Linked DNA regions of Homo sapiens: regions 1, 2, 3, 4 and 6 are each linked to region 5. Evidence: fine-mapped expression QTL. A gene starts in region 5. Each other region holds a variant in brackets. All regions are shown on one strand. Distances are from middle to middle. Region 1 has its middle 28 kb from the start of GRAMD4. Region 2 overlaps GRAMD4 (GRAM domain containing 4). Region 3 has its middle 22 kb from the start of GRAMD4. Region 4 has its middle 32 kb from the start of LINC02925. Region 5 holds the start of GRAMD4 (GRAM domain containing 4). Region 6 has its middle 33 kb from the start of GRAMD4.

The links. PIP is the estimated chance that this variant, and not a neighbour inherited with it, causes the effect.
Region 1: its variant is fine-mapped to the expression of GRAMD4 in whole blood (TOPMed, PIP above 0.99).
Region 2: its variant is fine-mapped to the expression of GRAMD4 in subcutaneous fat (GTEx, PIP 0.95).
Region 3: its variant is fine-mapped to the expression of GRAMD4 in subcutaneous fat (TwinsUK, PIP 0.95).
Region 4: its variant is fine-mapped to the expression of GRAMD4 in pancreas (GTEx, PIP above 0.99).
Region 6: its variant is fine-mapped to the expression of GRAMD4 in tibial nerve (GTEx, PIP above 0.99).

What each region holds. Positions count from the first base shown.
Region 1 is chr22:46,590,255-46,595,290 of GRCh38, reverse strand. It overlaps a transcript of GRAMD4 not described here. Among named protein-coding and RNA genes, the nearest start is that of GRAMD4, 28 kb to the left of the region's middle. RefSeq lists a silencer at 1,729-1,788. The variant C/T (reference allele first, on the strand shown) is at 2,543.
Region 2 is chr22:46,659,181-46,664,216 of GRCh38, reverse strand. It overlaps GRAMD4 (GRAM domain containing 4), which reads right to left. Exons shown (of 19, transcript NM_015124.5): 5 at 2,775-2,836; 6 at 1,045-1,177; 7 at 354-379; 8 at 100-191. Among named protein-coding and RNA genes, the nearest start is that of GRAMD4, 41 kb to the right of the region's middle. RefSeq lists an enhancer at 1,776-2,359. The variant G/A (reference allele first, on the strand shown) is at 2,923.
Region 3 is chr22:46,596,042-46,601,077 of GRCh38, reverse strand. It overlaps a transcript of GRAMD4 not described here. Among named protein-coding and RNA genes, the nearest start is that of GRAMD4, 22 kb to the left of the region's middle. RefSeq lists an enhancer at 1,647-2,146. The variant T/C (reference allele first, on the strand shown) is at 1,915.
Region 4 is chr22:46,570,874-46,575,909 of GRCh38, reverse strand. It overlaps a transcript of GRAMD4 not described here. Among named protein-coding and RNA genes, the nearest start is that of LINC02925, 32 kb to the right of the region's middle. The variant G/T (reference allele first, on the strand shown) is at 2,255.
Region 5 is chr22:46,617,617-46,622,652 of GRCh38, reverse strand. It overlaps GRAMD4 (GRAM domain containing 4), which reads right to left and starts at 2,267. Exons shown (of 19, transcript NM_015124.5): 1 at 2,088-2,267. RefSeq lists enhancers at 528-1,039, 3,468-4,235.
Region 6 is chr22:46,584,431-46,589,466 of GRCh38, reverse strand. It overlaps a transcript of GRAMD4 not described here. Among named protein-coding and RNA genes, the nearest start is that of GRAMD4, 33 kb to the left of the region's middle. RefSeq lists silencers at 1,292-1,341, 1,692-1,741 and enhancers at 2,232-3,219, 4,208-5,036. The variant G/A (reference allele first, on the strand shown) is at 2,479.

The sequences.
Region 1 (5,036 bases), 27 kb after region 5:
GTCCCCGTCTGGATTGTTCCAGAACCCTGAGGCGTGCAGACCCGCTGCGTCGCATGGTCTCTACCTGTAGTTAGTACCCACGCCCACCCTGGGATTGAAAACGTGCCCCTCTTGGGTGCCTGCCACTGACTTCACTTCCCCCACCCTGTGTGTCTCCAGGGGAAAGGCACACTCTCCCCCCGGGCCGCATGTGGGGCTGGGATGCGGACCCAACTTTCCTGCTGCTTTGCCTCGACGCCAGGCCACGCAGTCCACAGGAGGCGGGAACGACAGGTACCTCGGTGACTGGGCACCGCACTCAGAGCAGCAGAAACAAACCTGGTGCAGTCAGAAAGCCCAAGTCCCGATGCACTGGTTACCAGCAGCGGACACAGGCACAGCAAACCACAGACAGCAAAACTTAGTGCTGGCCGGGCTGGAGCCACTCCAGAGCGCTTCAGAACATGTGGGGCGCCCCTCCTCACCCCCAACCCCAGCTCCCCGTGCTGCCCCTCCCCCAGGGTTTGCAGGGCACCAACCCTCTCCTCCCTCCTAGGAGATGCCACCTCACCTGGGACCAGGACAGCCCCAGCCTCCATCTCCAGTCCGGCCCTCCTAGCCCCCCAGGGCAGGACAGATGCCAGGGCCAACTGTCCTGAGACCAAGCTCCACTTTACCCCTGGACATCTCTGTACCCAAAGCCTCCTAAAACACCTAACCCCCCCCACCCAACCAGAGGTCCCTCACCACCCACACAAGCAATGCCCCTTCCTCTACCAAGGGCCCCCCAGAGGGCCAGGAGCCTCCCCCTACCCCAGCCCTCCTCTGGCCAGTGCTCCCGCCACCCCACAAGTGCCAAGGATCCCTGAACACACCTGGCCCCTCACACCCATGTGCTTGCATTCCTGCCCTGGCCTAGAATGCTCTTTATCATCACCCACCATACCCACCCCACCCGCCCACTTCCACCTGTCCTTCCACAAAAACAGGGGCAGGGAGGAGGGGCCCACCAGGCAGGTATGGCCTGTGGGTAGAGCTACAGCAGGTGACAGTGTGGACCCAGGCAGAGAAAGGTGTGCATAGGGTGGTGGGGAAGGGAGAGCACAGGACACACAGAGCTGGGGCAGGAGCCGGGCGTGGGGCAGCTGGGGAGGGGCTGGCGGGATGCTGGGGTGGGGCTGGCAGGATGCTGGGGAGGGGCTGGCAGGATGCTGGGTATCAAGGCTGGCTTCTGCTTGACGGTGAGCCCAGAGGTTCCCATTACATTATTAAAAATAACGAAAATATGGCTGGGTGAGGTGGCTCACGCCTATAATCCTAGCACTTTGGGAGGCCGAGGCGGGCAGATCACCTGAGGTCAGGAGTTCAAGACTATCCTGCCAACATGATGAAACCCCATCTCTACTAAAAAAATACAAAAATTAGCCCAGGGTGGTGGTGCACGCCTGTAATCCCAGCTACTTGGGAGGCTGAAGCAGGAGAATTACTTGAACCCAGGAGGCAGAGGTTGCAGTGAGCTGAGATCGCGCCACTGCACTCCAGCCTGGGTGACTGAGCAAGACTCCATCTCAAAAAAATAAATAAAAATAATGAAAATAGACAAAAGAGGACTATGCACAGACGCCCAACAGCAGCACAGACCCCAGGCCAATGACGCATCCCATTCTATGCCCCGGAAGCCCAAATGATGAAAAAGGGAAGAGGTCTCAGCCCACAAGCCTCCTCCCTTAGAAGGCTGCCCCAGCACTGAACAGCCTGCTACGGGAAGTCACTTAATGCAACACTAGCCCACCTCTGCCCGCCCGCCATGGGACTCTCGGTAGGCCCTGCGGCAGGGGTTGGGGGGCGGTCCCACCTGCCCTCCCTGTGCGGCAGGCCCAGCGGAGAAGAGGCAGTCAGAGAACACCTGCCAAATGGCCAAGAACAACAACGTCCCTTTCACCGTCCAGCTGCAGAAATGGGGATGTCTCTCGCCAAGACCGCCTGCAACAAGGGCCGCCCGCAAGGAAGCTTCTGCTTGATGTGAGGTTCCGGGGAAAAGGAACCAGGCAGGGGAGAATCCCGTGATGGTTCATCAGGCCTCAAAGTCAGAACTTACGACTTTTTAAACGTTTCAGTACAATTTACCTTTCTGCTACTGGTACTGGTAAAGAGGAAAGGTCTGCAAATCAAATAACAGTAAACAAGATATCGATGTTACTTAAGCAAACACGTTACTCTCAAGTATTTGAGAACGGTGTGGATAAAACCAATTCCTTTTATGTTTTTGTTCAAATGCTTTCTTTTCTGAAAGCCCGCATGGAGAGTTCTAATTTAGGTTATGTTGGTGAACAAAAATAATCACAATGTGGGGTTTATATCTTCTAATTATACAGAATTTAGGACAAAATATTCATGTAAGTGATTCTGGAATACTTCATAAATAGGTCATATAGGCTCTTTTTATTGCCAAAATTCTTGAAACTCAGTGCAGCAGAGTCATTGTCTCCATGTGGAACTGAAAGCAAGGCAGGCAGCCAGCAGCCCCTCCACGATGCCGGCCACATCCTGGAGGTGCCGGGCG[C/T]GGTGTCAGCCAACAAATCAGCCGACACTGGGGTTTTTAAAGCCCCTTGCAGAGCTGGTCACCATACATGTGGGCCGCAGAATTCCAAGACTCTCGGGAGAGAAATTTTGCTTCTGCAGGCGTAGAGGATGTGGTTCCTCCCTGGTGCAGTCGGAACAGTGAAAACATTCAGGAAAGTAACTGAATCGAGCCCCTCCCGGCTGTGAATGACTGAGTTCACCACACAGCCACAGTGGGGCTTCTTCACCTTGCTCGCCATGACTCAGTGCTAACAGCCCACTTCATCCTTTTTTTTTTTTTTGGAAACAGGGCCTCCTCCCTATGTTTCCCAGGCTGGCTTCAAACTCCTGGGCTCTATGGATCCTCCCGCCTTAGCCTCCCAAGGAGCTGGGACCACAGACACGCACCCCTGCACCCAGCTCTGCTGTTTTTAATCGTACAATTAAGCAGTCAGTTATTTAAAAATACACACTTGCCCAACTTAAAAGAACCACACTTATTTATCAATTATGCCAGCTGGGCTGGTGGCAGTAGCAGTGGGCCTCATTCCCTAGGGCACTCTGGGGGCGCAACCCTATGGGGACTGTCCCCCAACTATGGCACCACCTAACCTGAGCCCCGGTGGCCCTGCTGAGCTGGGCGTCAGGATGAGGTCTCGACTCCCGTGACATCAACCAACTTTCCTGGAATGTGCCGTGATGCCCTTGACAAGTGTGGGGACTTGGGGGCGAGAGGGAGGGCCTTGCTGTGTCAAGCCTGCAGGCACAGGAGGGGACACACCAGTCCTGGGCTGGGCCCCAATGTCCACTGATATCACAGATGCTTTCTGACTGTCCCTGGGCATGGCTAACTGAGGGGTGCGGGGGCTGAGGGGTGCGGGGGTTGGCCTTTCTGGGTTTTTTTTTTTTTTTTTTTTGAGACAGAGTCTCGCTCTGTCACCCAGGCTGGAGTGCAGTGGCTTGATCTTGGCTCACTGCAACCTCCGTCTCCCGAGTTCAAACGATTCTCGTGCCTCAACCTCCAGAGTAGCTGGGATTACAGGCACCCACCACCACACCCGGCTAATTTTTATTTTTAGTAGAGACAGGGTTTTGCCATGTTGGCCAGACTGGTCTCCAACTACTGACCTCTGGTATTCCACCTGCCTCAGCCTCCCAAAGTGCTGGGATTACAGGCGTGAGGCACCGTGCACGGCCCGGGGGTGGCCTTTATGAGGGATGCAACCTAGGACTTCAGCAATGTCCGTTAGCCTCTGCCTCATGGAGCTTCAGTAACGTCGTCCAAATGAATTTGGTAAATCTGTCCAAAACAACAAACCCCAACTCCCACCTCAGCCTCCCAAGGAGCTGGGACTACGACATGCACCACCACACCCAGCTAATTTTTTATTTTTAGTAGAGATGGAGTCTCACTATGTTGCCCAGGCCGTTCTCAAACTCCTGAGCTCACGCAATCCTCCCCCTCTCAGCCTCTCAAAGTGCTGGGACTACAGGCATGAGCCACTGCACCCAGCCCTGTTAATTTCTGTTTAAGTCCCTGAAGAGAGAATTTAAGATAACGAGAGATTTCACTATCACACACTGGACCCCGCGGCTGAGAGGGCAGCAGTTTCCCACCTTAGGCCATTCCAGGGCTCTTGCCTTCTCTGGCTGTTTTTTGGGTTTGTTTGTTTTTTTTTCTTTTTCTTTTTAGACAGAGTCTTGCTCTATCACCCAGGCTGGAGTCCGGTGGCACGATCTTGGCTTACTGCAATCTCCGCCTCCCAGGTTCGTGCAATTTTCATCCCACAGCCTCCTGAGTAGCTGGGATTACAGGCACCCACCACCATGCTGGCTAATTTTTGTATTTTTAGTAGAGACAGAGTTTCACCATCTTGGCCAGGCTGGTCTCAGACTCCCGACCACAGACAATCCACCTGCCTCGGCCTCCCAAAGTGTTGGGATTACAGGCATGAGCCAGTGTGCCCGGCCTCTGGCTGTTTTTATAAACTAGTAGTGTCCATCGTCCTTAGCTGTCCTCAGACAACACTGTGGACTCTCCCCCAATCTCTCTGAGCTCCTCCTCCCCTCACCCAAGCACGCCCTGGCGGGACCTCTGCTGCTCTCTCCCTCCCCTGTTGACACTCACCTGGGCCCAGCCCGGGTTTCTCCCCTCCCATTCCCCTCTACCAGGCCACCAAACCAGGCCAGTCACGAGCAACAGGCAGACACCAGCTGACTGGGTGTTAACGGCAGCAGCCCAGGCCTGGTCACACACACAGTGGCCCAGGTCACCTCCTCCTTGGGACGCGCTCCTGGCCAATCCCAGCCCTCGGGGTTAGTGGAGCGCTCACCCATCCCCGGCACCTTCTCAGCTCTCTGCCAAGGACTGGCTGGAGGAAGGACACTGGGAGAGGTCCCCAGTACTCCCGAACCCCACCCACTAGCCACCTTCCCCCAGCTTCCCAATCAAAGCCTCCCACCAAGAGGAATCAGGCCGAGGGCCATCCATGTGG
Region 2 (5,036 bases), 42 kb before region 5:
TGGGGGCCACCTCCCACCCTGGGAAGGTGCCTGATCATGTGGTGAATGCTGGCAGGCACATCCCACCCACCCTGCTCGGCCCCTGGAGGACCCACTCACGGTGAAGGCAATGGCAGACGTGTAGACGGAGTACCAGTCGGATAAGGCAGAGAGGTTCTTCACAAAGTTAGTGACCGGCTTGGCACCGCGCTCTGGGGACAGAGCAGACCACAGTGGTCAGCACTGTGGGTAGGAGGCCGCTTAACCACGTCTCCCTGGAGAGTCGGTTCAGCTCAGAATCCCAGAGTCCCCACCGCCATGGGCCCCACCCACACTGAGCATCGTGGGCGCCACGCAGAGCCGCTGGTACTCACTGAGCCGTCTCATATTTTCAGTTAACCTAAGAGAGAAGGGGAGAGATGGGAGCCCAGGGTTAATGCACCCGCCGGCTCTGCAGTCCCCACTGCCCGGTTCCGTTGGCTCTGCAGGGGCCAGGGAGGACGTCTCAACAGCCTGGGACCCCTTGAGTGCACAGAATGGCCATGCACGGCGGCTCAGCACAGCAGGGTGCGCCGGGATGGCCCTCAGTGCCACTCCCCAAGTTAGGAAGGCAGGGGCGACTCGCCAATGAAATCGTCCCCTCATCTCCTGCCTGTGTCCCCAGAACAGAAGTCCTCAAGGGCAGGGCCTTTGCTGACCTAGCTCCCTCGGGACCCCCAGGGCCTATGGCAGCACCTGGCAGGGGAACCAAGGTTTACTGATGGGACTCAAGAGCCAAGGAAGGCCCCAGGCAGTGGGCTGAGCCCCATGAGTCCCCACACAACTGTCACAAGCCACAGCTGAGAGCAGTGCGCGCATGCAGCTCTGCTGCACCTAAGCGGGCCTCGCAAGCCCCTGCCAGGCACGGCCCCCAGAAGACCAGACACAGCGGAGCCTCCAGGAGCTCTCGGCAGCCTCACAGACAGCTTTGGCCCACGGTGATAAAGGATGGCCCACCCGCTGCAGCCTCAGCCCAGGGACCGGGGCCCCTAACGCACAGGCAGCCCCAGCTCGGCGAACCCCTACCTGCGGGCGCTCAGGGGTTCCTCTGTCTCCACAGTGTTCTCCTCGGGCTGGAACCGGAAGTCCTCCACGTACTCCCCAAACCGCTCGTAGAACCACTTCTGCAGGCGCGAGGACAGCCCCTGGCTCCGGCGCTCTGCAGGGGGCAGGGACCCGGTGAGGGCACGGCAGGGCTGCACTGCCTGTTCTGGGGTCGGCTCCGGGATCTCAGGGCAGGGAGGGGCCTCACTGCAAGGGCGCGGCCAGCAGAGGCACAAGGAATGCTCGGGGGTAGGTCAGGGAAATGAAGGGTCCCTGTACAAGGGACTTTGAAGGGCTCAGTCCTCTGAAGACACCAAGTGCAAACCAACCGGCACACAGCAGAGCTGCCCCAGCCATGACGACCTCAGTGCCGGGTCTCTCTGCTTTTCATCCCTGTCCCCAGCTCTCTGCCCGCCCTGGGCTCTCGTCAGCGGGCAGCCTGTCCATCCAGGCTGCTCGGCCCACCTCAGACGTCTGCATCAAACCCCCTTTCTACCTCCGGGTTGTCAGAAAGCAGATGGAGAGGTCACTGCCCCAGCCCTGCATATCCTGAGCATCAGCCAATGGATGGCGCAGCGGGAGGCTGTGTCCTGGGCTGGGGGTGCCTGGCGAGCGCAGCCAGCCCAGGGTGAGCGCACGGTGTTGTCGTGCTGATGACCAGCAATGTTTACCAAAAGCGAACACCTCTGGAAAGCAGCCTCCACGGCGGGAAACCGGAAGAATCCCTCGGAAGGGGGGCTCAGGGGTGCAAGCCAGTCCCTCCCTTCAGAAGGCCAGTGAGGAGCCGCCTGCAGCGGGTGCTGCCTCGCCAAAGTTTTGGGCCCTGGGACCAGAGGGCCTGTGGTCACCATACCCAGGGGGCTGCAGGCTCAGGGCAGAGGCTCAAGAGCCACAGGCCAAGGGGGCTGAGGTCTGTGTACCCCAAGGCCACCCGGGCAGGGAGGATGGGGCCAGGGCAGGCTCCTGCGGCTTCTTCCCGCCCCCAAGGCAGCCTGGCAGAGTTTTTAAGGGGAGGGTCCAGGTGAGATCGGCACACTCGTCCCAGCCGTAAGTGAACCGGCCCGGCTGTGTTCCCATGGACTTTATTTATGGACTGAAATTTCAGGTTTATATTACGTTCTCATGTCATGAAATGAAACCATTTAAATCTGTGAAGCCAGGCGGGGGCTGGAGTTTGCTGACCCCCAGGTACAGGGAACTATGCCGGCTGCCTGCAGGGCGTGGGGCAAGATAAAGAACAGGCACTCAGGGATGGAGGACGAGGAGAGAGATAAAAGGGCACATGAACCCCCAACTCCCCACTCACAGCCAACCATAGCCCCACTGCCCACTTGGTCCCCTTCGGGGAGGCACCAGGGCAGCGGCAGTGACCAGCGTGGCTCTCACATCACTGTTCCGTGGGGCAAGGCTGAAACAGAGTACGTGTGTATTCCCCAAAGAACACACAATCACGCTTTAGTTGAGTGACTGGAAATTTGTGATGACGACTATGATGACTCACCACTTCGCATCAGAGACACTAACCCAGTTCTGACGGGAGGAGATTCCCGGATGCCAGCAGGTGCCTGGGCACAGAACCAGCACCTGCCGCCTGCCCACCTGCTGGGGGAGGGGGTATCTGCTCCATTGTTAACCTGGGCCTACAGAACCAGCAGGTGACGCGCAGCCACCCACCCGCCCGCCTGCCTGTCCACCCGCCCACCAGGGTGTACCTGCTCCATTGCTGGCCTGGGCCTGCCCTTTTGGGGGCTGCTGAGCCATCTGCTCCTCGGTTCTTAAAAAGCAGGGAGAGAAGAGACAAGAGGTCTGTTAGTTCCAAACTCCATGCCCAGTCAGGCACCCCCGAGGGCTCTCGCGACC[G/A]TGTACTGCACAGGAGAGGTCAGGGACAGCAGGGCTCTCTCCAGAGTCTCCACTGCTGAAATGCTGGTTCCGAGCGTATCCAGGCAAGCACAGAGCTGCCTTCCTAACAGGCACACGTTTTGTTTTTAAACAACCAGCATCTTTCACCACTCTTTCCTTTCCTATTCATTTTAGCACACTTGCTTCTTTCAACATCATTAAACTCAGAATACTCTCATATCACCAACCCGTCTGCTAATGAAAAGATACTGATCAACACACATGTGTTTATCAGGCACCAAGCCAGGCCACAGGCTGGGTGCCACCTGTCAGCAGCCTGTACCCAGCTCCCAGCTCAGCCTACTCCAGCGACCTGCCTGGACTGGGCAGGGGCACTAGACGGCCACTAGGGTCTGCTTCCGTCCCACACCCAGCCCCTCCAGCCAAGGCCTGTGAGCAGGTGCAGCACAGAACCGGGCCAAGTGCTGTGTGGTCGCCCCTAACCTTCCTAACTCTTGGGAAGCGGGAGTGGGGAGGGAGGAAGCTGGGGGAGGAGTAAACCCTGAGAAGAGAACAGAGGGCGGAGCACAGGGCACACAGGGCACGGCCAGGTAAGCAGCGGGCAGGAAGCAGACAGTGAGGTTTTCAGGGGACTTTGGATCCACAATGGAGAGAATCTCTGCCTACTGACAAGTAGCCTTAAACCAAGGTGACTTTCTGAGAATTTTCTTAAAAACCAAAATAGAGGTTTGCATAAACAGAACTGCTGTGCTTTAATCCTGCAGCTTCAGAGTGTGTGGTATGTGTGTGTGCAGTGTGTGCGCACATGTGTCTGCATGTTTGTGTGTGCCCTCACACACCTACCCACCCTGGACAGACCACAGCCACCCAGACCCACCCCAGATCTGCACCAGGACGACAAGGAAAGAGGAGGTCACTCTGCCTGGGACTGCTCTTCCTTCACCCCTCCTCCTTCAGGCTTCCAGAAGGTTCCTAAGCGCCGCCCCCATGTAAAGCAGGGGAGAGCCCTTAATGCTCCCAGGACCTTCAGCTTCCACTTCCTGGGTCACAGCCTGGATGTTCCTTCACTGCCCATTCCCCACCCATTCCCAAGGCAGAGACTGTGCGAGATGGGGCTCCCTGCGTTCTTACAGCTGACCCGGGCTGGGCACACCTGCCACCAAGGGGCTTTGGTAAAAGATGAGGACCAGATCCTGGAGTGGGGCTGGCGGGAGTGAGAGGATGGGAAACAGAACACAGGGAGCAGGGCCACGGGGACAGCCTCAGGCCACCTTAGCCACCGGGGGAGAAGCAGCGTCCCGTGGCGGGGATGGCACTGTGGCCAAATGCCTGGGGACCGCACCTGTCCCTGGGATCTCCCAGCGTGGCAGGTCAGGTCTCTGTTGCAACTCTACATAATTAAATGTAATTTAAGCTTTGAGCTTCTGTGGATTTTCCCAGAAGGTTCAGCATCAGGTAAAGCGCCTGCCGAGGCCCATGCACCCATTTCTGGTCTGGGAGGTTCTGCCAGGGCGGAATAGGAAAGTGAGGCCTCTCCCTCCCCCACACCAGCTGGATGCCCCCACATGAGCCCCCACATGAGCCCCCCAGGGCACTCCACAAGGTCATGCTGACCTGCAGGAGGCGGGCAAGGAAGAAGTGGGAGTCAGCCCAGCGGATCCCCCGTCTTCCCACACACTAAACCTGAGGGTGCTGAAGGGAGCCGCTTCCTCAGGGCCAGCTAAGCAGCGACACTTGGAGTCCTGACAATGACACACGGCCCCCGGAGCGCTCATAGCAGGCAGTGCTCAGCTGGGGTGTCCCAGAGATGCCGTGTGCCTCCCTAACTGGTGACAGCCATCCATGCAGGTCATGGGGGCCACAGACAAAGGTGTGGCCAATGGTGGTGGGAGGCTGAGGTGGGAGACCTGGAGGGAGGCTAAGTGGAGGCTGGAGGGAGGCTGAGTGGAACCTGAGTGGGGAGGCTGAGGGAGTGGAGTCTGAGGACGGAGGCTGAAGATGATGCTGGGGGGAGGCTGGGCAGAAACTGAGGGTGGAGACTGAGGGGGGAGGCTGAGGGAGTGGAGGCTGAGAGGGAGGCCGAAGCAGGAGGCTGCTGGAGTGGAGGCTGAGAG
Region 3 (5,036 bases), 22 kb after region 5:
CCGCCTCCCAGGTTAAAGTGATTCTCCTGCCCCAGTCTCCCGAGTAGCTGGGACTATAGGCACCTGCCACCATGTCTGGCTAATTTTTGCATTTTTAGTAGAGACGGGATTTCACCATATTGGCCAAGCTGGTCTTGAACTCCTGACCTTGTGATCCGCCTGCCTTGGCCTCCCAAAGTGCTGGGATTACAGGCATGAGCCACTGCACCTGGCCCCAAGTAGTGATTTCTTTTTAAAGAAAGACATGTTATTTATGTTAACATGTAATAGATTTATAGTTGCATATTTCAGTAAATTAATAAATCTTTTTAAATTTCTTAGTTTTGATTTCTAATAGCGAGTGGCAATGAATACACCCCACATGCACAAAGACTCGCCAGTGTCCTCCATCGCTTGAGGCTGTAAGGGGCTCTGCGACCGGGGCTTAGCACCTGAGTGTACAGGACGCACCTGCCGCCTTGCTCCGCTGTCTCCTCCATGCCTGCCTGTGCACTGTCTGTGCTTCCCCCACTCAGCATCCCTGTCCCTCTTTTGGTAAGGACCCTGCTCTCCACGGGGAATTACCCATCCCATGGTGAGGGGCTGCCAATCACATGCTCTGCCTCATCACGGGAATGAAGCCACAAGGGAAGCAGAAGGAGGCGTGGAGGGTGAAAAAGCACCACGTCAGAAGAAGGGGAGACCAGCGACCCAGCCAGAGCACCCCAAGCAGCTCCATACCGCAGGCCCCTGGCCCCAAGCTGGCAAAGCCCCCCTCTGCTTAAGCAAATCTGTGGGGGCCCTTTCCATTTTGCACGCTCTCTCTGATGGGGCTTTAGGAGACCCTCAGCAGTGGCCCACATCCCACCACTGGAACAGGGTGACAGCTCCAGGTGACAGCTGCGGGCACTGGTCACAGGCAGGTGATTCTCTCACAGAAGGGCACAGGTGTCACCAGCCTTTAAAAATCGAGGCATAAAACAGTCGATTCCCAAGACAGACACCTCAGGAAGAATCCTTTTATGACTAAAGGACTCTTCCACTCTCCGCAGGACCCTTTGACAAATAACCAGCAAGCTTCCTGGTGGCCTTAAGGTCAGATGAGATTCACAGTCAGCCACTCGACAGACAGTCCTACAGGGAGAAGGTGCCGCCGGTGGTGAGACACACCTGGGATTCTCACTGACTCAGGACTAAGGAGTCCCCACGTGGGGAAAGCCTTCCGATGGTCACTTTTCTGCAAAAGCAGTCACACCTCACAACACGCCTTTGCTCCAGCGACGGCGACCATGGAACTCGTAGGCATGTGGGGCCATCATGTTCGATGGTGCTGACTTGTGGAAACATTTCAATCTCCATCTTCCAGACAGAACCAAGATGCTCATTTCAGAGAATGGAGCTAATACATTAAATGCAGGTTGCTAGGTAATTTTTCACTAGGTAATTTTAATTCTCAAAAAAACTTAAGTATCAGCTGGGCATGGTGGCTCATGCCTGTAATCCCAGCACTTTGGAAGGCCGAGGCGGGTGGGTCACCTGAGGTCAGGAGTTCAAGACCAGCCTGGCCAAGAGGGTGAAACTCCATCTCTACTAAAAATACAAAAATACAAAAATTAGCCGGGCATGGTGGCAGGAGCCTGTAATCCCAGCTACTTGCGAGGCTGAGGCAGGAGAATCACTTGAACCCGGGAGGTAGAGGTTGCAGTGAGCCAAGATCGTGACACTGCACTCTAGCCCGGGGAACAAGAGCAAGACTCCGTCTCAAAAAAAAAAACAACTTAGTATCTAAAAGCACAACTATGAAACGACCAGCTCAACGTCTGAAAAATCACGAGCCATCTGCAAATTGCGTAACTGACAACGCAAGCACTCTCACACACAGGCCCTGTCTGCGCCCAGGGTGGCTCAACAGCAGAAATATCTGACCCCCAGTGG[T/C]CCCATCTGTTAACAAAGGCTCCAAAAATCTACTTCTTGTGTGCTAGGGGTTCTGTCAAGGACTTGGGATGTCCTGATCTGATCCTCCATCTCTGTCACGGCCTCTGTGTCACACAGTTCCCTGGGACCCCCATCCTCCTCCGGGGGTGCTGCAGGGCACTGAGCTGGTGGGCACCGGAGGCCACCAGAGGAGCTCACAGTCCCACCACCCCCAACCCTAGCCCTCTGGGTGCAGGGCGGCTCCTGTCTCCTGTGTTACCCTCTTCCCATGCATGTCCCCTCCTGGTTCCCCTTCTTTCAGTCCCAGCCTGAAACCCACCATGTAGCTGCTAAGCGTGCTCTCCAGACAAGGCCAGCTCCATCCTTCCCCGCTGGCCCGCACGGATTTTGAGGACTTGGCTTTCAGTGTCAGCTCCTAGTTCCAATTTCGGGTATACTTGGCCCTCAAGGAGCTCGGAGCTGCACCACAGGCCCTGTCTGACCTCAGGGTCTCCCCACATTCTAAACAAGCTCCTTCCCCCAAGCAGACCCCCATATACCTCAACTAACCAGAAGCTACCACCTAGACCCACAGGTGAGCCAGGAGCCGGCAGTCAGCAAATCACAGCAAATCAAGCCGGTAACCAGAACTGCTTTTCTCCAAAGTGGGAGAGAAAGCAACTTAGAGGCGTTCAGGCCAGGACTCATCCTAGACAAGGTCTTACAGCTTGCTCAATTAGAATCCTCTGGCAACAAACACCGAGGTGCAAATAACCAGTCCATCCACCCCTCCCTCCCGCTCTCCATCTCACAGACACTCCCTCACTCCACTTACCAGAGCAGCAAGACACCCAAACATCTCCCTAGAATTCTCATTAAATTTTCACCAAAAAAACGCCACCCAGCCAGGTGTGGTGGCTCACACCTGTAATCCTATCCCTTTGGGAGGCTGAGGCGGGAGGATCACTTGAGGCCAGGAGTTTGAGACCAGCCTGGCCAACATGGAGAAACCCTGTCTCTACTAAAAATAAAAGAATTAGCTGGGCATGGTGGTATGCACCTGAAATTCCAGCTACTCCGGAAGCTGAGGCATAAGAATCACTTGAACCCAGGAGGTGGAGGTTGCAGTGAGCTGGGATTGTGCCACTGCACTCCAGCCTGGGCGACACAGCAAGACTCTGTCTCAAAAACAAAACAAAACAAAAGGCCGCCAATGCCAAAACCTAATGGACTAAAAAAATGCCACCTTGTACAGTGCTCTAAAGGCAAGTTCTACAAGCAGATAATGGTAAAAACAAAACAAAACAAAACCAACGTGTCACCTAAACTTGCCCCCAGAAGGGTAACTTGCAAATCAAACTGTACTTGTTTTTGTCCTAATTAAAACCATGCCAGAGGCCGGGCGTGGTAGCTCATGCCTGTAATCCCAGCACTTTGGGAGGCCGAAGCGGGCAGATCACGAGGTCAGGAGATCGAGACCATCCTGGCTAACACGGTGAAACCCCGTCTCTACTAAAAATACAAAAAATTAGCCGGGCGTGGTGGCGGGTGCCTGTGGTCCCAGCTACTCGGGAGGCTGAGGCGGGAGAATGGTGTGAACCCAGGAGGCGGAGCTTGCAGTGAGCCGGGATCGCGCCACTGCACTCCAGCCTGGGCGACAGAGCGAGACTCCGTCTCAAAAAATAAATAAATAAATAGATAGATAGATAAATGAAACCAGGCCAGAAAATCACCTGAAACTTGAGCAAGAGAGAGAGAAGGAGAGGTAACTACCACCCAAAGAAGTTCCTCTGGATCTAAAGAAGATTCCAACTCACCACATCATCTCATCCCCATACGCCTTTGGGGGCTTCATAGCATTTTCTCCTTGGGGGAACCTAACCTCCTAAACATCCAACTTAAACAAACCCTCTTTAAAACAGCCTTGCTTAGCAGTATGCCTCCTGCCAGGAGGGACACAGGGCACTGAGCAGGAGCTGGTCTGTGTGCCACCTCCAGGGCCTACACCTGGCACCTGCAAGTCTCCAGCAGCCAAGGAAACCTCTCGCTCCTGCTGAGCCACTTTGCAGCTCTCCAAAGGACCCAAAGGTCTGGCCGCCGATTCCCAGGGGAGGGCAGGACTTATCGAAAGCAGGCGTGGAGACCTGGTTTAACCAGTCCAGCAGGTTGACAGATGGATGGACGCTGAGAAGGGTGGCTCCCGATCCCACCTGGAGGCAGCAGCTAAGCCAGCCCTGCAGCCATCCAAGCTCTGCAAAGGAGTGGAGGTCTCAGTGACAGGTGGAAAAAAGGCCCCAAGAGGACAAAAGAATGCTATTTTTAAAGCCTAATCTGGGCCAGGCATGGTGGCTCACACCTGTAATTGCAGCACTTTGGGAAACTGAGGCCAATGGATTACCTGAGGTCAGGAGTTCAAGACCAGCCTGGCTAACATGGTGAAATCCTGTCTCTACTAAAAATACAAAAATTAACTGGGTGTGGTGGCATGTGCCTGTAGTCCCAGCTACTCAGAAGGCTGAGGCAGGAGAATCACTTGAACTATGGGGATGGAGGTTGCAGTGAACTGAGATTGTGAGATCGTGCCACTGCACTCCAGCCTGGGCAACAGAGCACATGAGACTCCGTCTCAGAAAAAAATAAAAAAGGCTAATCTCTAAATTCCAAAAGGAAACAGGATTCTATCAACTGGTTCAACTGAGAAGAGAAAGGCCATTCGAGCCCCTTGCCAAGCACTCAACAGCCCAGGAGGCACCAGCACCCACCCACAGAGGGATGGTGACAAAGACTTCGGGACTGTGGCCAGATGGCCCTGGAGTCCCTGCAGGACCCTGCAGAAAGGGCCGCCAGGGACATCTGTCATCCTGGCCACACTTACGTCTGTGGAAACTGATGGCTATCAGCCTCATAAATGTGATTTCACCAGTTAAGACTCCAGCCCCGATGGCACGAGCCAGCAGCCAGAGTCCCTATCCACGGGAAGCAGGGGGCTGGGCACAGCTAGTCCTTGTCCTCATGGTCAATCCAGGCAGCAGAGAAACTGCGCCAGGCAGCCCTCTGACCTCCCGTCATGGTGCTGATCCAGAACTATGCACAATGATTCCAACAACGTGTCCTCAGAGTGAATTACGAGAAAGTGAACCCAT
Region 4 (5,036 bases), 47 kb after region 5:
ACCTGGGTTAGAGGCAGGCACTCAGGTGAGCTGTACTTCTCCAAGGCTCAGGTTCCTGTCTGCAGAACTGGGGACCCAGTGATTTCAGGGTAAAGGATCCAGCGCTTCCGCAAGGGCTGCCCAGTGGCGTCTGTCCTGTGCCTCCGCAGGCAGCATGGGGTGCGATGGCGCGCTGTCTGCAGGACCGTCTCTTTCCAGGATGGCGGAGATGACTCACATTTGTGCCCAGAGCCCCCATCCAGCACCAGGCCTGACCGCCAGACCTCTCTGGCTCCCCCTCCCCGCTGTCCAAACCCTCCAGGCTTTCCTGCCTTATCTCTGTCCTCCAGGGAAACAGGATTTGTTTTTCCCAAACACAAGCTCTACTTTCCTGCCTACCGCTCCCTACTCTGGCCATATCCTCCCAGGGGTACCTGCCCTACACTAACTCTACCCAGCCTGCCAGGCCCAGCTCCAGAGCTGCCCACTCCAGGAAGCCCTGAGCCAGCCTGGTCAGAAATGAACCCGGACTCCACCTGCCAAGGCTCTGGGGGAGGGGGGGGGCCCTTAGGGCACCTCCTGCCCCAGCACTGTGACCACATTTTAATCGTTTTCATTGTTGATTGTGCTCCTTCCTGTCTCCTCTCTCCACTCTCCCTGACAGCCCAGGTGAGCTGCTCCTGGGAGCAAAGGCCCAGAGCTTTCCTGTGCGAGTCCCTCGCTGCTGTCCCCACATTTCAAGACCTTGGCCAGGCTGTGTCATTGTCCGGGTCATTTTGTACACAAATGACTCACCTCAGCCAAGCCCCAAAGGCAACCTGTTTGTGCGGATGCAGCAGTGGCAGTCTCTCTGCCAGCAGGACACCTGCTGCTTCTCACCTCTCATCTCCGAACCTCTCTGCTTCTCCCAGTGGAGAAAAAGCCTCCATCCTCACAGCAGCGATCCCAAAGAGAGACCCCCTCCTGCCCCACACCCCTCCACCAAGTCTCCTGGAAGGATTCTCATCGCCCTGCTTGGTCATGTGCCACGCTTGAGCCAAGGGGACTGCGGGGGCAGAGGCCAGGGTGCTGTGACTGGCAGTGCCATCTGAACCACTGGGGCTGAGGCAGGCAGTACCCCAACAGAAAAGGGGCTGCAGCAGACAGCGCGACACAGAGCAAGCGCCCAAGAAATGTTCATTTTGTGAACGGCCAGGATTAGGAGTGAGCAGGCAGAAGCCAAAGGGAAACCAGACGAGGGCACCCAGCATGCCTAGCCCCTCATATCTGGCCCACCCTCCAGACATTTGCTCGGTGCCCAGTCCCTGCTTGGTAGGGGCGCAAAACTGGTGCAGTGCAGAGAGTCAGACAGAGCCCCTGCCTGATGGACAGGCACGGACCACACACCCCACAAAGGGGGACACTTGATATTGCGTGGTGCCCACCACCCTGCTCCGTGGCTCTTCACAGCCATCCTATTAGCCCATTTACAGAGCAGCGTTTATGGCTGAATTGTGTCCCCCAAAAAATTCATCTGTTGAAGTCCTAACTCCCATACCTCCCAATGAGACTGCATTTGGAGACAGGGTTCTTAAAGAGGCGATGAAGGTAAATGAGGCCCTGAGGGTGGGCCCTAACCCAACAGCACATGTGTCCTCATAAAAGGAGGAGATGGGGACACGGACACACACAGGGGGGATTGCATGAGGACACGGAGAGAAGGCGGCATCTGCACTCCCAGGAGTGAGGCCTCAGGAGGAACCAGCCCTGCAGACGCATTGATCTCAGACTTTCAATCTCTGGAAGCATGAGGAAATGAAGTTCTGTTGTGTAAGCCGCCTGTCTGTGGTGTTGGTTACACCAGCCCTGGCAAACTCACACGAGGGCACAGGCTCAGAGTGGCCGCCAGACCCTAAGGGTCACATAGCTGGTGATGGCAAGGCCACCGCCAGCTCCCTGCTCCTCTGCTCAAAGCAGAACTGGACACAGGGATGGCGGGGCAGGGCTGCTCCGAGTGGGCACGGCGGAGCCCTGAGCTTGGTGGGTGGCCTGGGAAGGAGGCTTGGAGCCTGCTCACACCAGGGGCCAGCGGGGCCCTCAGACCCGTGCCTCCCGGCCTCAGAGCCTTGAGGGAAATCGGGGGCAAGATGACAGGACTCGAGAGGAACCAGTGACAAGTGGTAGCAGGGCTCTCCATATAGCCTGACACCCCCGCACTGTCCACTGGCTCCTCAAGGCCATCCTGTTATGTTTGTCTGTGGCCAAAGGCATGGAAATAAGTCGATGAGAAGCAGGG[G/T]TGTGTCAGGGGCAGGCCAATCCGAGTTCATATCCCAGCCCCCCCTCACCTTCTGAGACGGGACCTGGAACCAAGCAGGTGCACCTGGAAGGTTCGTACCTTGGCATGTAGTATCCAGGCTGTCACTCCACATGCACAAAACCGCATATTTTATTACACAGGACGCCAAGGCACAGAGGGCTCAGGAACCTGCCCGGGGCCACCGAGGAGAGGTGGGAAGGAAGCACTCCAAGCCCCGGGGTGTGCAAACTCTGGGTTCCAGGCCGTTCCCCACATCACCTCGTCGCCACCCCCCAGAGATGGCAGCACCTGGCACCAAATGGCACTGGGAAGTGCCGGCGGTTGCTATTTTCATCCTGATTAGGGGAGAAGGGGTGGGGCCAGGGCTAGGGAGGAAGGCCCCTGGATCTGGAGCAGTGAGAGGTTTGGGCGAAGAGTCCCAGGCTGGGAGTTGGGGTTCCTATAGGAGACTGAACAGAGCAGCAGCTGGTGGCTCTCAGCTCTGGGCCAGAGATGGCAGCGTCCCAGCCAGAGAGCTGAGGGGCCCAGTCCCACTCCTCAACAGTCAGGGCTCCCAGGAGGCGGCCTCACTCTCACCTTTGCTACCACTCCTGGCACCGGGTTGCTGCCAGGAATCAGTGGGAAGGTGGTGCTTCCTTAGCCCCTCCTGTGCTGACACCTGCCTCCCACCCCTGAAAATTCCAGGAGCTAGAAGTGTTTTAGCTCCAGATGCATCTGGGTCCTTGTGCCCTGGCATGGGAGGGTCAGCGGGCAGTCCACCCCCAGTCTCCCCTGCTACAGGCATGTGGGAGGCACCCCATAAGGGTCATGGCTGGGAGAAGGGATCCAGGACAACCTCATCTTTTTTATTTTATTTTATTTTTGAGACGAAGTCTTGCTCTGTCACCGAGGCTGCAGTGCAGTGGCTCAATCTTGGCTCACTGCAACCTCTGCCTTTGAGTGATTCTCCTGCCTCAGCCTCCCCAGTAGCTGGGACCACAGGCGTGTGCCACCATGCATGCCTGGCTAATTTTTGTATTTTTAATAAAGACGGGGTTTGGGTTTCACCATATTGGCCAGGCTGATCTCGAACTCCTGACCTCAGGTGATCCACCCGCCTCGGCCTCCCAAATGGCTGAGATTACAGGCCTGAGCCACCGTGCCTGGCCAACCTCATCATTTTTAGAGAATCGAACTGAGGCTGAGAGCACCCCAGGGACGAACTTATCCTGACCTCTCCTTGGTGCCAAGCCCTATGCTGTGGACGTGTGTCAAGGAGGAACACTCAAGAAGGTCCCCTGGCCTTCTTATCCAACAGAGAGGCAGAGCCAGGCAGGCAATGAAGTCACAGTGTGGTCAGTGATGAGACAGAGAGCCACAGAAGGCTGAGGAGGCTTCCTGGAGGCCATGATACTCTAAGAGAGGCCAAGGAGTGACCAGAGGTTAACTAGGATAAGATAGTAGGAAGAGGATTCCAGGCAGAGGGAACAGCATATACAAAGGCCTGGTGGGAAGAGAGAGAGCTCCACTTGTTCTGTTTAGCTGGGAAAAAGCAGGAGCTGCCATGAAGGACAGCCCATATCCCAGGGCAGGAAGGAGCCATGGCCGGGTCTCAAGCAGGAACAACAGGATCCCATCAGTGCTCTTCTGGGTATAGACTGGAGGCCTCTGGGTGATAAGCAGGTGGGAGGGGGTGCTGTGCTTTGAATATTTGTGTTCTATGTAAAATGTTTATCTAGAAACAGAGTGCTCATTCCCCAGTGCTGCAAAGAAACAGCACTCAAACATAAATTTAATTATCTCAGCAAGGCCATTTTTACTTTCTGCAGAAAGGGTGCTCATCGCAGATGGAACAATGGCGACAGCACACCTGAACAAAGGAGGGAAGCAATTTTTATCCCTTACGCGTTTGTCCCTGTTACTGTGTCCTGTCTCCGTTGGCTGCAGCCAGACCTCACAATCTAAACTAAAACCCGATTGGCTAACAGTTTAAAACTTTTCTAAAAAGGTAAAAGTAATGGAAAGACAAAGGAAAAGAGGAAGTTGCTTATGCCAAATAGGGAAGGGGCATAGGCTGCAAGCGGGAGCATGCCTGTGAGCAGGTACAGCACAAATATCTTGGTTAAGGTTCCAGGACATAGAATGTACTATGTTGACTGTGAGCATGTTTAGCAGCTACATAGGCTAGGGCTTAACAAAGAGTTATTAGCACAAAGCAAGGAGGCTTGAAGGAAGTTAGTTTTTCAAAGAAACTATTATTTTTAACACTTATGATTTATTTAACAAGAAGGGAAACTTTGAAGAGGAATTTTTACTTTCTACATTTGTCACCTCCAAAACTCATGTTGAAATTTAGTCCTCGGCTGGGCGAGGTGGCTCCTGCCTGTAATCCTAGTGCTTTGGGAGGCTGAGATGGGAGGATCTCTTGAGGCCAAGAGTTGGAGGCTGCAATGAGCCAAGATTGTGCCACTGCACTCCAGCCTGGGCAACAGAGTGAGATCCTGTCTTAAAAAAAAATTAATCTCCAACATGGGGAGTATTGAGAGGTGGGGCCATAAAGAGGTGATTGGATCATGTGGGCTCTGCCCTCATAAATGGACTAATCCATTCATGGCTTAATGGATTCATGGGTTAAGGGATTAATGGGTTATCATGGGGGAGGGGGGAACTGGTGGCTTAATAAGAAGGGGGAGAGACACCTGAGCTAGCTCGCTAGGCCTCTCAGGCCCCTTGCCGTGTGCTGCCCTGTGCTGTCTCGGGACTCTGCAGAGGCTCGCCTGGC
Region 5 (5,036 bases):
CGTGAGCCGCCGTGCTCAGCCCAACTTCACCAGTTTTTAGCGTGCAGCTCCGTGGCATAAATTACATCTGTGATGCTGAGCGGCTGCCTCCGGACTCGTCTTGTCTAACTGAAACTCTGCTCACTGAATAGGAACTCCCATGCCCTCCCCAAGCCCCCGGTAACCACCATTTTTACTGCTTTTTAATGTTTAAAAAGGAAGGATGAACGGGCTAGGGGAAGTGTAGCAATGTAAAACCTACTTCCTTCCATTTTCAAAAACCCGGCGAGTCCTCCTGGTTGCGGCAGCTGAGAGGGAAGCGGAGGGGATGACCCGGGCGCTGGGGCCTGCAGGCCCTGTGTAGGGCACCGAGCTGGCCTCCACCCAAGGAAAGCAGGGGACACGCTTGGACACGCACAGAACTCTTGGCTGCCTGCAGGGCTCTGGGCAGAGGACAGCCCCCTTGTCTGGGAGGCTGTAATTCCGAGGCCAGGGCTGCCTTCCCAATCACCTCAGGCAAGCAAATGAGGCAATGAGAGAGGGGACAAAGGCCCTGAGTGTCCCGCCTGTCACCATCAGAATGCAATGCGTGCCCCGCCAGTGTCCAGCTACTCCTCAGTCTGCTCTCCCAGCCACCGGCTCAGCCCCAAACCCAGGGTCATCCTGCTGGATGGTTCACAGCGGCCCTTGGGGAGGGCGTCCACACATCAGGGTCCTAGACGACCCTGCTCTCAGCCCCACTGACTCCACCACCCTCCTCACCCAACTCCCTGGGTCCATCAAAAAGACAGACTTTTCAAGCTTCGGTCAGTTAAGAATCAAACTCCATGTCACGACACATGTCACCACACACTGCCAGGGATGGACCTTCCAGCCTTCACCACCAGGGATGGGCCCGGGCTACACTTCCAGCCTGCGCCTGCACCGGGGTAGGGGTGCCCTCCGCGACACAGCGCCAGGGACGGGCCCGGGCTACGCCTCCAGCCTGTGCCTGCACCGGGGTAGGGGTGCCCTCCGCGACACACTGCCAGGGATGGGCCCGGGCTACGCCTCCAGCCTGCGCCTGCACCGGGGTAGGGGTGCCCTCCGCGACACACCGCCAGGGATGGGCCCGGGCTACGCCTCCAGCCTGCGCCTGCACCGGGGTAGGGGTGCCCTCCGCGACACACCGCCAGGGATGGGCCCGGGCTACGCCTCCAGCCTGCGCCTGCACCGGGGTAGGGGTGCCCTCCACGGCCACATGGGCAGCCCCCGCACTGCACTGAAGAGTGCTCCACTGTACACCAGGGTGACTTCATCTCAGTGACATCTGCAAAGAGCCATTTCCAAGTAAGGTCGGGTCCACAGGTACGAGGTGGACATGAATTTTGGGGGAGGACACTATTACCCAGCACACGCCCAACTTACAGATGCAGGAACCAAGGCCCGTCTACACACTGAGCATAGCTCCAGGCTGCACCTCAGGCCAGACCCGGGTCTCCCGACACCGCCCACCTGCGTCTCACCTGCACCTTCCGTCCTGCGTGCTGCAGCCGCGCATCCCCAACCAGACGGCCCCTGCCCTCCCCACTTCTAGCTGCCCATCCCCACCCCCTCCACGGTCCCTGGAGGAAGCCCAGCTCCTCAGCCTGCAGCCCAGCCGCTCTCCCCAGGACCAGCCCCTCCACCTGCACCTACAGGCCCACCCCTGGCAGCCCAGGGCCCCTGCAACTCCGAGCCATGCGGCCCTCTCAGATCGGCCTCCTCCCTCTCGGATGGGCCTCCCTCCCTCTCAGATCGGCCTCCCTTCCTCTCGTCCTGTCAGGTTCTGAGGGGCTTCCTGGGAGGCTCCTCCTCTTGCCGGCCCTCCTGACCAGGCCAGGTTCTCAGGAGGCCTCCACCCTTCCTCACTGGACCCCTGGCCCCGGGCTGCGCAGGTGCTTTACCGGTGGGGTCTGGCCTGCACCCGGCCTTGGGAGGGAGCCTGCCTTTCAAGATCAAGATGGCTCCAGAAGAGCACGTGGTAGCTGGGACCACTGCCCCAGAGAGTAGCAGCTTTTCCCAAGGCTGGGGCTTCCACTCAGATGGGCCCTACCATGTCCCCCTGCCCCCTGCCCCCTGCCCCCTACCTCCGTCTGTCTCAGATACATCCAGAAACACTCTTTCACTGTGGCTCCTTCAGGTCCTGGCCCAGAACCAGGATGTGCTACGAGGACCCAGGAACCATAGCCTCCAAGCCGCCCAACACCAGCAGGCACGGAGAGGGTGGTGTCTGCTGCCCTGGAGCCTGGAGGACTCCAGTCCTGTGCACCAGAGCAGGGCAGCAGGGCTCACCACGGCTGTCCAGGTTCTCCCAGGATCCCCCAGGCTCAGGGCGGCGCCCGGCCAGGCTCCAGGCCCTCTCTGCAAGCAGGACGGAATTGGGCCAGCCAGCCCTGGAACACAAAAGCATGCTGCTCTGGAAACCGCTGAATTGCTTCTGGACACACAAAGGCAACAGTGTCTAGGGAACCCTGGACTCAGAAACCGCAAAGGACTTTATTTCCCCTTCCCCAGCCCAAGATTTAAAAAAAAAAAAGTGGTTCCTGGTCTCTGGCGCTTGCCCTGAGCCGTGTCTCCTTCACACCATCTCCCCTGCTAAAGTTCCTCTCCGAGTTCTGGGTCCCTGGATCACAGCTGACCTCCACATCAGGGCCCGGCTGCTGGCACGCCCTTCATCCCCTTATTATCTGGCGGCTCTCCTGCTGATCCTGGGATAAACAGCATCCGCTTTCCCACAGCCGCCAGCCCTCCTAAGCAATGTCCCTGGGGGACTCGCAGATGTTGAGCGACACAGACACACCTCCCCCACCCCCACTGCAGTGGGCCCCAGCCCCCACCTGGCCCTCCTCCAAGTCTCAGTCCTCTAGGGAAGGTAGCCCCTAAACCTCACTGTCAGAAAGGCCTGGATGGAGGTTAGACCAGCAGCTGGACAGCCAACCTGGGCAGCTGAAGAGGACGTGAGGATGGGGCAGCTGGCAGACTCCAGGGCTTTGCAGAGTGAACAGGAGGACCGGGGGCGGCCAGCAAAGAAGGCCTGGTTCTACCAATACCCCATCGCCAGCCAGGCACCAGGGCTCAGGCCTGTAATCCCAGCACTTTGAGAGGCTGAGGTGGGCAATGCAGTGACACAGAAAGTGAAATAAGAACATGAGCCAGCGTGGTGGTACGTGCCTACAGTCCCAGTTGCTCAGAAGGTTGAGGCAGGAGGATCGCCTGGGAACCTGGGAGTTTGAGGCTGCGGTGAACCACGATCGTACCACTGCACTCCAGCCTGGGTGAGGGCCAGACCTTGTCTCTAAGAACAAAACAAAAACATCCACCCCAATGTCCCCATGCTTACAGCCACATACTTGCACCTCCCTAACTCCTGATGCAAAGAGGCCCAAGGACCCAGCACACACACAGCTCCCTGGGCCCTCTGGGGTCCTGAGACTGCAGATCCTGCCCTTCCAGCCCGTGCCCGACCTTGGCCACTATTGTTCCAACATCAGCCTCAAGAGGTCGGCTCACAACTGATGACATGTGTGCTGCCCCAAACTCAAGGCTTGTCCAGGAGTTTCATCCCCTCCCTGGATTCAGGCCTCAGTCCTGCCAGCTGGGCACAGTCAGGCGGCCTCAAATGCTGATGTCCGTATCCGGGTGTTTGGCTGCTCTCAACCCTGCCCCCTGACCTGGCCTCCCTGCAGGCTCCAAGCCGGACAGCTCACCAGTATCTCAACTATGCCACGCCTGGCACAGACTCGGGTCTCAAGGGGCACTCTGACTGGATGGCACCGTGTCCACCAGCTGTCTGGGTGAAACCCTCAAGAGCCCTTGATAGCCCCGTTCCTCACTCCACTGCCAACCTGCAGCGCACGCCGGCCGCACGCCTCCAGACGGGGCTGCACATCTGTCCACCTCTCCCCACGACCCCAGCCTGGTCCAGGCAGCCGCGTGCCTCCCCTCTCCCCACCACCCCAGCCTGGTCCAGGCAGCCGCGTGCCTCCCGAAGCCTTCTCCACATGGCAAGCATGGTGAGGCCTTCAAAGGCAAAATCAGCCTCTGCAGCGCCCCTGCCAAAGTTCTCCAGGGGCTTCCACGCACCCGGGTCAACACGGCTGCTCCCCCGACACCCTCATCAGCTCTGGCTCATCTAGGCTTGGCTGCAGCTCTGCCGACCCCCTTTGCAACCCTCCGACCACCGCCTCTGTCCCCACTGCAGGGCCCGACACGTTTGGCTCCGGGACGTCGCTCATTTGCCCCATTCCCTAGGCGCCGCCCGCTGTCATTCCACCATCCTGTTTGGTTTGACGTGGGGTCCTTGGATTGCCCTGATGGCTTCCTTGTTTAGCGCTTGTGCCTCCAGTCCTGCTTGGTTAGAACCCGCCTGGTGCTCCCCCGGGGCAGGGGCTGTGTCTGGCTAAGTCTCCAGGGGCTCGGCTCTGCCGGTGATGCTCAGGTGGACTCGAGCTGCAGGCACCCGAGTCTCCCTCTGCAGAGCTTGGCACGTGGTGGGCAGTGACAAACACTTGTTCAGAGAGTGAGGGAGCGACACACAAAGGCAGCCCAGATGCCACGGCTGGGGGGTCCCCGCCAGCCTGAGCCCGCAGCCACCAGCTGAGCTTTCTTTCCTCTGCCAGAGGCCTCAAGAGAAAGGGACACCCATGGACTAGGGACACCCATGGACTCTGCCTTGGGCCCTGCCAAAGCACAGCGTCCCTGAATACACAAAAACTTTTAACTACAAGCCTTCAGTGATCTGGGATGTTTCTCCAGGAAGAAACCTGAATTCCTTCCCTTGGCAAAGTATCTTCAGGCTTGAGTCATACGAGGGTCAGGCTGGAACCCCATGTGGGGAGCTGAGCCTTCTGCACTGTGACAGGGAAGCCACCCAGGGGGGCCAGGGAGCGGGCCCAGGGCTAAGCACACCCTGGGGTGCTAATGCCAGCACGGTGTATGGCCCGCTCTGGGGCCACTTGCCAGCGTGGCCCAGGAGAGACAGTCAGGAAGACTGGGAGGGCCAGGAGATGCCTACGTGAGTCTCCGCTTCTTCCTCT
Region 6 (5,036 bases), 33 kb after region 5:
CCCCAAACAGCCCAGCCCCACACTGGGCCATCTGCCCTCGGGCCACGTGAGGCACAGCCCTCACACCCACGGCTCCCCCATATCAGAGCTGCCCCCACACCCAGGACTCCCCCACATATCAGAGCTGCCCCCACACCCAGGGCTCCCCCACATATCAGAGCTGCCCCCACACCCACGGCTCCCCCATATCAGAGCCGCCCCCAAACCCAGGACTCCCCCCAAGAGCCAGGGCTGCCCTCTTTAACAAGGCTCCAGGGCTTTCGGGAAGGCAGCAGCGACTGGAGGGACAAGGACACTGAGCCAGGGTCTCCCAGCTCTGAAAAGGTCCTCCCTGGAGCACCAGCAGGCTGGGGAGTGTCGCCCATCCAGGTCCCCCCGCCCCCTGCCGTCCCTGCTTCTCCCATCAGTACTGACGAAGCACCTGCTGCGTACCCAGCCCTCTGCCCAGCGCCACAGTTACGAGCTGTGGTTGCACTGCCACGGGCCAGCACAGGACATCTCAAATGTTTAAGAGAACTCTGCTGTCACCAACCTTACTGTGGGAGGGGGTGGGGAGACGCTGGCAGAGGCTGGGTCACCAGCCCCAGGCCCCACAGCTATGACAGGACCTGAGAAGAAAGGCTTCGGCTCCAGCCCAGCCCAGCCTGGGCCACATCCAGGCTCTGCCCAGCCCGGACCGACGCCAGTGTCACATGCCCTCCTGAGACCTGTGTCAGGGAAGCCTAAGGACCCCGGGGATGGAGAGGGCGGTGCTGGGGCTCCTGGATCAGGCCGGGGAAGGAGGACGGACGAAAGGGTGGGCACCCCGCAGCTCCAGGAGCACTGGCCACCCCTGCCCCCCAGCCAGGAACATCTTCAGATCGCTCATTCTCCAAAGGCAGCTGATGGCTAAGACTGCGAGGGACAGGGTGGGGCCTTGTAAAAGCTTAGAACGTGGCTGGCCAGAGGCCACAGCTCCCCTCTTGCCCTCTGTAGTGGTTTGACCCACTCCGCAGATACCAATATGAACAGCACTCGCCCGGGGAGGGTGCTCCAACAAGCCAGCCGGGTCTGCCCCACATCCACAGAGCTCAGCAGGCCTGCCACCTCCCTGCCCTTGCGTGGTGCTGCCTGGAGGGATGGAAGACGGACAGCCAGACAGGGACGGAGGTGTGCTGACCTCAGCTCTGCCCCTCCTGACCTACTGGCTCCTCATCCATCGGGTTGTGGGGGACGCTGGGCAGTCACTGGGGTTACCTGGCTTCTCCCATGCTCCTAGGTTCTCAAAGCAGATGGGGTGGCTGGGGGTGACCCCCCAGGGCCTGCCTATCCTGAGTCACAGCTCTAGATGTCCGGTTTAGAGAGAGACTCTGGGACAGAGCCCCCGAAGGCGGCTCCATGGGGCTCCACCAGGGCTGGGGCTGTCCCAGAGTCTCTCTCTAAACCCGACATCTAGAGCCAAGTAGACACCACCCACTCCCTCCCCGCCTGTGCCCCTCCTGACCAGGCCCTGGCCCCCTGGACCCTCAGGCCTTTTGCCAACCTGTGATGTGAGTGCGTCTGCCCAGACGGGGAGGATCAGGAGCCCTGTACCATCCTCCCGCGGCCCCACCCCGACGCCCGGGCTTCTGGCGCACACGCCTGTTTCACTTCCTCTCCACCAAACATCTGCCACCTCCACTGTTAGGCAGGTCAGGCTCCAGGGGCCAGCAACGACCACCAGTCAGTTCCACCTGTTTCAACCCTACCTCGGGCCAGTGCCTCTGGGTCCCTCCCTCCTGAGCTGGGGTTGGCTGAGTGTGCCTGCCTAGGCTTCTCCCACAGGACAGGACAGGACAGGACAGGACGGAGCCTTGCCCACTGACCCCCATCCAGCCCACTGGCCCCCCGCCCCGGCCTGGGCTGCCTGCCAGGTATGCTGCTGGTGGAGGCCCTCCCCCTCAAGCCTTTGTCAGACCCTGACTATCCCCCTAGTTGGAAGAGAAGGGCTACAGAAAGCAAGCAGAAGACACAAACCTGGGCACTGAAGCCGGAACAGGACCCCAAACGGCCTCCGCCTCCCAGAGCTGATGGCCCAGTGTCACTCCGGACGGCTGGGCTTTTGGAACAGACTTCCCCTTCCCACCCCCACACACTTAAACCTGACAGTTTCACTTCTTGGGTGGAGAATGTGTGAAATGATTCACACACCTTGCTGGGGTCCAGCAGTGGCTGGGGACACAATGTCACCTTCTACTCCGGAGCCCCAGATCACTGGCTCATCACAGCCCAGCGGGCACACACGCTCCACAGATCACAGGGGCCTCCACTCTCACAGGGTCCACTCCTGTTGTCAGCTGAGCATTCCCCCAGGGCAGGGGATAATCTACTTCATCAGGGTTCTGTGGCAAACAAGAGCCACTGGGCGCAGAGTGGGCTGAGAAAGCATGCGAGGAAGTAGGCGACCATCAGCACGGGCTTTGTCCAGCATCACAGGGTAGTTACGGTCCGGTTCTTCCC[G/A]GGTAAGAGGGTGGGTTCTGGGACACAGACGGGGTGTGGGTGTTGCTTCAGACTTTTAAACGCCAAACTCCCCACCCAGGGGCCAAGGTCTACACACACCTTTCTACCTCTGCCCATCCAGGTCCCAAGTGCCCTCAGAGCTGCAGGGCCTCAGCTCCCTCCTCATCAGCTGCAGGGCAGGAAGACAGAGGACCCTGCAGGCTGTCACTGCTCAGGCCAGGCTCACCCCAGGGCCGCTTTCCCCAGCAGACAGGTAGGGGTTCCCCCCAACTCATGTCCCAGCAGGGACAGCAGCCAGTCGCCCTGAGAAGCTGAGACCCCACCAGCGATTCCGCCACACCAGAGCTCTGGGTGCAGTAGGATACCTGGCTCCTTCGTCTGCCCCCTGAAGGCCCTCGTCTCTGTGTCATGGGGCTAGGCCCTCCCATGACCCCCACGTTTCCCCAACCCTATGGAGTGTGTCTAAGGAAGCAGGTGGAATTGGCCTGGCTCCCCCAGTCTGGGGCCTAGAGCAGAGCCCGGGGAGCCAGGGAGCCCTGGGCTGGGGAGGGGAGGGCAGACAGAGGAGGGGACAGAGCCCCTCCGAGCCAGCATCACCCGGCAAATGCCTCCGACCATCGCACCGGACTGAGCCAGCCCACCAATCTCAACCTGGAAAGCAGGGAGGCGCCAGTGGGGCCCAGTGAGGATGGGGGTGGGGCACGTGGGGCGGTGGGGAGGAGCCAGGGCAAGGAAGGAGACACGGTCAGCAGGAAGGCAGGAGGCTGGCCCCAGGTAAGGGCATAGGCAGGTGAGTGGGCCACCCCCTAAGCTGCATTCCCAAGAATGCTGGCATCCCCAGCGAGGGCAGCCCTGGCTCCCCGGGCTGTGCTCTAGGTCCCAGACTGGGGGAGCCAGGCCAATTCCACCTGCTTCCTTAGACACACTCCATAGGGTTGGGGAAACGTGGGGGTCATGGGAGGGCCTAGCCCCATAGCACAGAGACAAGGGCCTTCGGGGGCAGACAAAGGAGCCAGGTATCCCACTGCACCCAAGACGTGGCTGAACCTCAGTCCTAGCCCCAGAGGAGCCGCAGGCACATGCTGGTTGGGTCTCCAGGAGCCTTGCACAGAGGCTGACCTTTAACAAGCTGACCTGAGAGGCCGGTCTCAAGCCATCCCCACTCCTGTGTCCTATAAACTCCTGTGCCCCTCCCTCATCGCTCCAGGGAGCCCTCCTTGTCGCTCCCTCCCTGGCAGGGTCAGGCCCTTCCCCATCCCATAGACCAGGCTCTCTTTACCTTTCCACCTCCCACAAGCTCCCTTCCACCATGTGTGCCCTGAAGGCAGAAGCATCATTCAGGTGCCCCGGACAGGTGATAAGAGGCCAGCACCCCTCATGGGACCGCGAACACAAGGGTGAAAGTCTTGTATTCCAGGCAAGGGCCTTGGGGTGCTGTGACCGGAGGCTTCCTGGGTCTAGGGCCGAAGTTAACCCAACATCAAGAAAACAAGACAGGCAGCCGGGCGCGGTGGCTCACGCCTATAATCCCAGCACTTTGGGAGGTGGAGGCAGGCGGATCACCTGAGGTCAGGAGTTTGAGACCAGCCTGACCAACATGGAGAAACTCCGACTCTACTAAAAATACAAAATTAGCTGGGCGTTGTGGTGCGTGCCTGTAGTTCCAGCTACTCGGGAGGCTGAGGCAGGAGAATCACTTGAACCTGGGAGGTGGAGGTTGCAATGAGCCACGATCACGCCATTGCACTCCAGCCTGGGCAACAAGAGCAAAACTCCATCTAAAAAAAAAAAAAAAGAAAGAAAGAAAAAAGACAGGCTCCACTCAGATCCCCAAAATGCTGCCTGGAAAACACCGCCGACAAACCAGCAGACGAGGAGTGACCACCTGGTTCTCTCTCTTCCCAAAACTTCTGCAAGGGCCTGACGCATTCCTGAATGAAAGATGCTTAACAGAAAGCCCAGCAGATGCGGCTCTGTAGATCTTTTCAAAGGCCGTCCCCTGCCAGGGTGGCAAGTTCAGAGGCAGAGAGGGGACAGACCTGGCCAGGATGGAGTCGGAGATTTGTCTGAGCTCTAAAGCGTCCCGCCGGCAGCCTTTCTCCTCCTTCCCCGAGGAGGCCGGACTCTGGGATGCGTTCTAAGTCAGCCCCACTTTCACGTCTCAAAGCAACGCCAAGCCCGTGCCCGTCCCTGCGGGGCCGGGCTGACTAAGCACAGCAGGGAAGTCCCTGGTTCTCCTGCAGCCTCCCTCCCTTCTTCCCTCTAAGTCGTGGAATCATGTTGGGGAGGTGGCGGCCCCTCCCCAGCCCCAGCCAGCCATGCTGCGGCAGCATACCGGGAGCCCGGGCTCGAAGCCAAGGGATCGGGAACTGCTTCCCGGGGGGTCCCACTAACAACTCCAGTCCCACTACGCAGACACACCGGTACTAACAATTAAGTAGATGTGTGGCAAGCGGTGGGAGTCTGGCTTCCTGCTGCTTGAATAGACACGAATTGATCTGCAAGAAAGGAGACGAGAAAGATCCATGCAGGAAACGGATCAGAGTTCATCAGCGGCG